2 linked regions of the Homo sapiens genome follow. The protein of the gene in region 1 interacts with the protein of each later gene in a pairwise test. Each region holds a gene or a part of one and is shown on either strand. Other genes may lie near its edges.

Region 1 (3,500 bases):
ACCCTTTCTGTTAAAGGGATATTAAAATCCTGCTGGCATCCCCTCCCCTCAAAGAGAACACACCTGGGCCCAGCCAAGAGAGTTGCCTATAGTCGCAGGCTCATCCACAGACTACAGTGCAGCTGTCGAGCTCGTGCATGCTCAGGAGGGAGTTCAGAGCCTCAGCCCCAGCCTGCCATTGCCTCCAGCCTGATGCAGGGTCTGAGGGAGCTGCTGGAAAGCTTCCCATCCCAATGACCATGTGCAACCCCAAACCTTGCCTAGGCAGAGTCCCAGGCCTCTTGAGAGACTCAGGAGCTGGGCAAGACCTCCCAACATGGGTATGGACGTGCCCAGACAGGGCTGGATAAGGCCCCTGGCCAACAGCAGGTTAGTAAAGGGGCACTAGGAGCTGGTGCAGGACCCAGCAAGCCTGCCTGTGGGACAGGTTCCCTTTACAGGGTGAGCTCTTCCACTGCTAACGTCCCCTGAGTTAAGAAATCCCAAATAGGAACTGCAGGGGCTGATTCACCAAAGCACCACCAGGGCTAGAGAGCACGAGCACAGAGCAGGCCTCCAGCAAATGCTTCTGGAAAAAGAAAAGGGAGGGAGGGAGGTACGTTGGAGGTAGTGGTTTCAAACCCTGCTTCACATTAGAAGCAGCTGAGGAGCTCGGAAATGCTGATGCCTAGGTTGTCACCACCCCCATGGATTCTAATTCCATGGGTCCAGGACAAGGCTGTCCAGGTAATTACCGTGTGTAACCAGGAAGAGAAGCGCTGCTCTAGTAGGACTAGCTGTGAGTGGTTCTCAAGCAGCTGCACATGTTAGAATCCCCTGGGATTCAAACGTTTCAAATGATCCTGGAGCTCTAGCCCTATCTCAAACCAACTACACCAGAATCTCTGGGGGTGCAGTCCAGGCCTCAGCATGTTTCGAAGCCCCCACGTGGTTCCCCACATGCAAGCAGTCCTGTGTGCTGACACTTGCTGGGGTGTCCTCCGTGACTGTCAGAGTCAAGGGTCTAATGCTGACTGGTTGCTACGGGTGCAGCCCAGCCCATGGGATTCTGCCCAAGCAGGGCTAACTTCTGCCAGGCCACCCCACATGCTCCATGACCCCAGAATTAGGCTCAATGGAGGCTGTCTTAGCTGAAGGAGAGTTTGCCTCCCTGTCCTGAATTTTGGTAACTTCTGCAACTGAAGGCCAATCATTCCCTAAGAGTCTGGGGAGGTCAGAGAGTACGTTGTGGTGAATCAGGCACAGGCTCTTTCTTGAGACCTCACAGTCTACAGGGGGAGGAAGAGATGGACTGATGGGTGTAGACACTTGCAACGCAGAGGTGACACCATGACTGAGGCCATCAGCACAGGGGGCTGCTGGACCTAATCAACCTGGGGGCGGGGGCATCAGGGACGTCCTCCTGGGGGATGTGACATCATAAGTGACTTCATGGAAGAACATTAGGATGAGGGGAAGAAGGCTCTGAGCAGAGGAAATGGCATCAGCCCTGGAAAGAACGTGGAGAGCACACAGGCTGTTCTAGAGGCATCACAGGCCTTGGCATGGCTGGCCCAAGGGGTGTGAGTGATGGGGAAGCCTGGGGGCCTGGGCAGGGGGCAAAGAACAGATTACACTTGGACTTGATCTCAAGGACAACAGGGAGCCAGTGACAGTTCTAAGCAGGGAAGCGACAAGGTGAGAATTATGTTTTGGAGTGATGTCTCTGGGGGCAACAGGAGGCATGTTTGCAGGGGGATGGCTGAAGGCAAGGGGGCCAGTGGGAAGGCTGATGTAGTAGGGCGTGTCCCAGGTGCTGAGGCCAGACGGGGCAGTGGGGTGGAGTCAATGGCCTAAGATGGCATAAGAGGTGAGCACAGCACTGCGAGACAAGAGGAGGAAGGGCCGGCTCAGGCCGGCGAGTTCCACTGGTGAGCTTTCTGGATTCTGGATGATGCAGTTGTCAATGGTTGCTGGGGTGGGGCGGGAGCTGGAGAGTCCTGGTTTGGTTCCAGGGCGAGATTTCCTACAGGCAGGTTTCAGTTCTGCGAGGCATCCTGCTGGACCCAGCCTCCCCGGCCTCCCTTTCTGGTGGATTTGTGAAATTCAGGGGCCTACGTGCCTGATCCCTGCAACAAAGCTCCCGCCATGCCGGGTGAGCCTAAGAGGGTCGGGGAGAGAAACTCCCACCTCCCCACAAAGCACCTCTGAACATGAAAGCCGGACTCCACATCAATATTTATTGACTCGGTTTATATAACCTCCATCCTCAGAGACGTTCTAAAGCCCTTGGTTTCACTTCTTGAATTTAACAACCTGAGCCTCGCGATAAACAGCTCGCTAGTTCTCCAGCGCTACATTGGAGGGTTTCATTACAGGCACAGTCCTCACCACGGAATCACCCTCTCTGCACCCGTCTCCCCTCATCCACTCACTCAGCCACTCATCGTCCGCTCACTGAGAGTCTACTAAAGGGCCTACTGTGAGCCGGATGCTGTGCACAGCCATTGCCTCAAGGAGTTCACAGGAGGGAGAGAGTGAGACATTCAATGAGCAATTCACCAAAGAAATAACCACAAACCAAGCACTGAATGTGGTCTGAACAGAGCACACGAGGGGGGCCCTTTGACGGGGTGGTCCTGGAAGCGAGAGGGGACTGGGCTCCAGGCAACCCCGGGCCAGAGCATTGCAGCATTCTAGGACGCCCAGAGATCCTACAAGGAAGAGGAGCTCGAGGTTCCAGAGGGCCTGGAAGAAGCAGTCTGGCTGTGACGAAGGGGACAAGGAGAGAACGCTGAGGTGAGGCTGGAAGGAAAGCAGGGTCCAGCCCCCTAGGGCTTTGGAGGCCAATATCACCCTTGTCCTGCCCAAGACAGTAGCTCCCCACAGAGGCAGCCCTGGTGCTGTCGGGGTAACATCTTTGCTCAGCCTGCACCCCCTCAACCACCCTCCAGTCTCATGTACCTCTCCCCACTGGTTCACACTGTCCCCTCCAGCCCCAGCACCCTGACAGCTCCTGCAGTTGCTTCTCTGGGCCTTGGGCCAGGCCTGGAGCCCCTGTGTGCCTTTCCTCAGCAAGGAGAACATCTCCTCAGCATTCAGCTCCAGCCCTGAACCCCTAATCCATCCCTGCTGTGTAGCTGGGGCCTGCTCCAGTTCCTCCTCCATAGGAGCACACTGCATCCCCATCACCCCTCTCGCCTACCAGCCACCTTCTGCTGGGAAGGCCTCGGGCAGCAAGCGAGTCGCACCCTTTTCTCTGTGCCCAGTAGTGACTCATACAAAGTGGGGATCAGAAACATTTCCTGACCTGCAGTGTTGAGTTGAATTAAGACCAGAGAGACAGACACACAGACACTCATACACACACACACACACACACAGACACACACAAAGAGACACACTCACACACACAGTTACACACACACACAGAGACACACACACTGAGAGAAAGGTACACACACAGAGACACAGACACACACACAGACACAGAGACACACACAGAGACAAACACACACAAA
Region 2 (2,774 bases), on another chromosome or scaffold:
AAGCCAAAAGTGCATTTAACACACCCAACCTACTGAATATAATAAGTTAGCCTACTTCAAATGTGCTCAGAACGCTTATGTTACTGTGGCTGACCAGAAGCTGTGGCTCATGGCTGCTGCGCAGCATCATGACAGAATATTGTACTGAATTGCTAGCCTGGAAAAGAACAAAATTTAAAATTTGAAAACGATTTCTATTGAATGCATGTCACTTTTGCAAAATCATAAATTTGAAAAATCATAAGTTGAACTAAGGTAAGTCAGGGATCATCTGTATATCCACAAGTGAAATTGCTAGATCATATGATAGTTCAGTGTTTAATTTTTTGAGGAACTGTCATACTGTTTAGCAACTGCACCATTTTCCATTCCCACCAACAGTGCCCAAAGGTTCTAATTTCTCCCCATCCTCACCAACACTTAATTATTTATTAATAATAGCCATCCTGATGGGTGTGACTTTGGTGTCCCATTTCCCCCAATGAATGGTGATGTTGAGCCTCTTAGGTGCTTATAGCCATTTGTATATCTTTGGAGAAATGCCTATTCAAGGCCTTTGCTCATTTTTGACTTCAGTTTGGTTTTTTTGTTGTTAGGTTGTAGGAATTATTTGTATAATTCTAGTGCATATTAGGTCTTAAAGAGTGGGCAAATTAAAGATCGGAAGAGGGCTAGATGACCTCAACCAGAATTGGAAGAGGTAGTACTTTCCTCTTAAGGCAAGAAGTTTGGGATTTTTGAGGAAGTTGAGGTGAGAGAGAGAGAGAACATTCCAAATAAAGGGAGTGACTAGAGCAAAGGCTTAGGATGGGAAAAACCAGGATGTTTTTGGAGAACAGTGGGAATTCTGTTTAGGTTAAATCATAAGGTTGGGCTGTAGGGACCCTAAGGCTAAAAAGATAGATTGCAAAGGACAGAGAAGAATATACTTGTGGTCAGGAGGATGGCCTGCATACATGCCTATCTCCCATCAGGCTGCAGGGCTGGGGGCTAGTGTTCTGCTTGTCACCCCTGGAGGTAGGGTCGGTTCCACTTAACAGCGCATGGCTGAGAATGTAGGATTTGGATGGGAAGGGAATCTTCTCAAATAAGAATCCAAGATTGTTACTGAGAGAAGAGGGGAGGCATATTGAGGCAGTCAACAAATGTCAGTGCTTACACCCACACAATAGGCAGTCAGTAAGCATTTGATTGAATGCGTTGAATGACAAAAATGCTTACCCATCTTGCTCAAGCAGCATCTTCTAGCCCTTGAATAGCCTTACCATTCCTCTGGAATCACAGCTACCTGGGAAGGACTATTAGGATAATGAGGAGAGCTAATGCTTATTTAGCACCTACTCTGTGCTAGTCTTTGTGCTAGGTGTTTTTCATGTATTATCTCAACCTTTGAGTCTCAGCTTACTGATGAGGTTCTGAGAAGGGAACCCCACATGTATAGGTCATTAGAGGGGTCCCCATATGTATAGGTCATTAAGAGGAAAAGTTTAGCCAAGTTGAACTCCTTTCTAGTAGGAGGATCCGTTGTTTTCACTCACCCTCCTCTTTGCACTAGGCCCTAGACCCCTTGTAGTTGTGTTAGTTGTAACTATTGGACCCCTTGTCCTAAAGCCGTCTCATTTTCTAGGGAATGTTAGGCTAAGGATGTTTGTGAGCTGAGTGAGATAATCTTTTGGGGATGGAAACTGACCTGTGGCTGGCCGGCCAAGGACATAAGAATGAAGAACTTTTGTCAGTCCTAGCTTTGAGTCAGCCTCATCCCAACATCAGAAGGCAGTTTTGCCAGCTTTCCAGTGGAGACTCGGTACTTGGCTTTTTCCTAGATTCCTCTCTCAGAATTGAGCTCAGGCCCAGGGAGGCTCAGGCTGACTCTCCATTTCTTTTCCCTCCCTAGAATCATTGCGATGATGAGTCCAGAGGACAGCTGGGTCTCCAAGTGGCAGCGAGTCAGTAAGTGTTGGCCTGTCTCCTTTTGGCTTAGTTGTAGTGTTGTTACTGTTCCTCAGGTCCATTAGGGAGTCTCAAATCAGCAAGATGAGTGACCTCAGGGTGGGAAAGATCGGGTTGTAGGAAACACAGGGAAGCAGTGTCCTGTGCCTTGTCATTTAACACTTGTAGCCAAAAGAGGGAATAGCTCTTCTCTTGGAGTTGCATCACTTCTTTAGCTTAAGCTTCCATTTGATCTTGAGTCTTAACTAACTTCACTGTAATCTTGTATCTTTTTTCTTCTCTCTCAGGTAACTTTAAGCCAGGTGTATATGCGGTGTCAGTCACTGGTCGCCTGCCCCAAGGTAATAATAATCATAACAGCCAATGTTCATTTACTGTAAAGCTCTGTGGAAGTTTTTTTATCTGAATTAATGCCAATTCTCACATTCTATGAGGTTCAGCATTTTACAGATGGGGGGAACCAGGCACAGAGAGGTTAAATCACTTGCTGGAGGTCACCAGGTAGTAAATGAGGAGCCAGGATTGGAATCCAGGCATTCTGGCTCCAGAATTTTTGCTGTTTCTGTTTTTTATTTTTTTTAGAGACAAGGTCTCACTATGTTGCCCAGGCTGGACTCTAACTCCTGGGCTCATGTGCTCCTCCCACCTCTGCCTCCTGAGTAGCTGGGACTACAGGTGCTTGGCTTAGAACCTTTGCTTTTGATGACTACATGTATCCCTCTTTTTCTTCTCATTCTTACCGAATACCTGCCTGGGTCTTCACTAGTAATGAGTCAACTAAGCAGGACCTTTTTTTTTTTTTTTTTTTTTGAGACAGAGTCTCT

Evidence for each region.
Region 2: the proteins of NSG2 (region 1) and SUPT4H1 interact in a two-hybrid assay, tested with the Homo sapiens proteins (one large-scale study listed by BioGRID and IntAct).

What each region holds. Positions count from the first base shown.
Region 1 is NC_000005.10:174,097,706-174,101,205, reverse strand, and holds part of NSG2 (neuronal vesicle trafficking-associated protein 2), read right to left. Parts: intron 1-3,500.
Region 2 is NC_000017.11:58,346,705-58,349,478, reverse strand, and holds part of SUPT4H1 (transcription elongation factor SPT4), read left to right. Parts: intron 1-1,894; coding exon 1,895-1,950; intron 1,951-2,237; coding exon 2,238-2,291; intron 2,292-2,774. UniProt on the Homo sapiens protein: Component of the DRB sensitivity-inducing factor complex (DSIF complex), which regulates mRNA processing and transcription elongation by RNA polymerase II.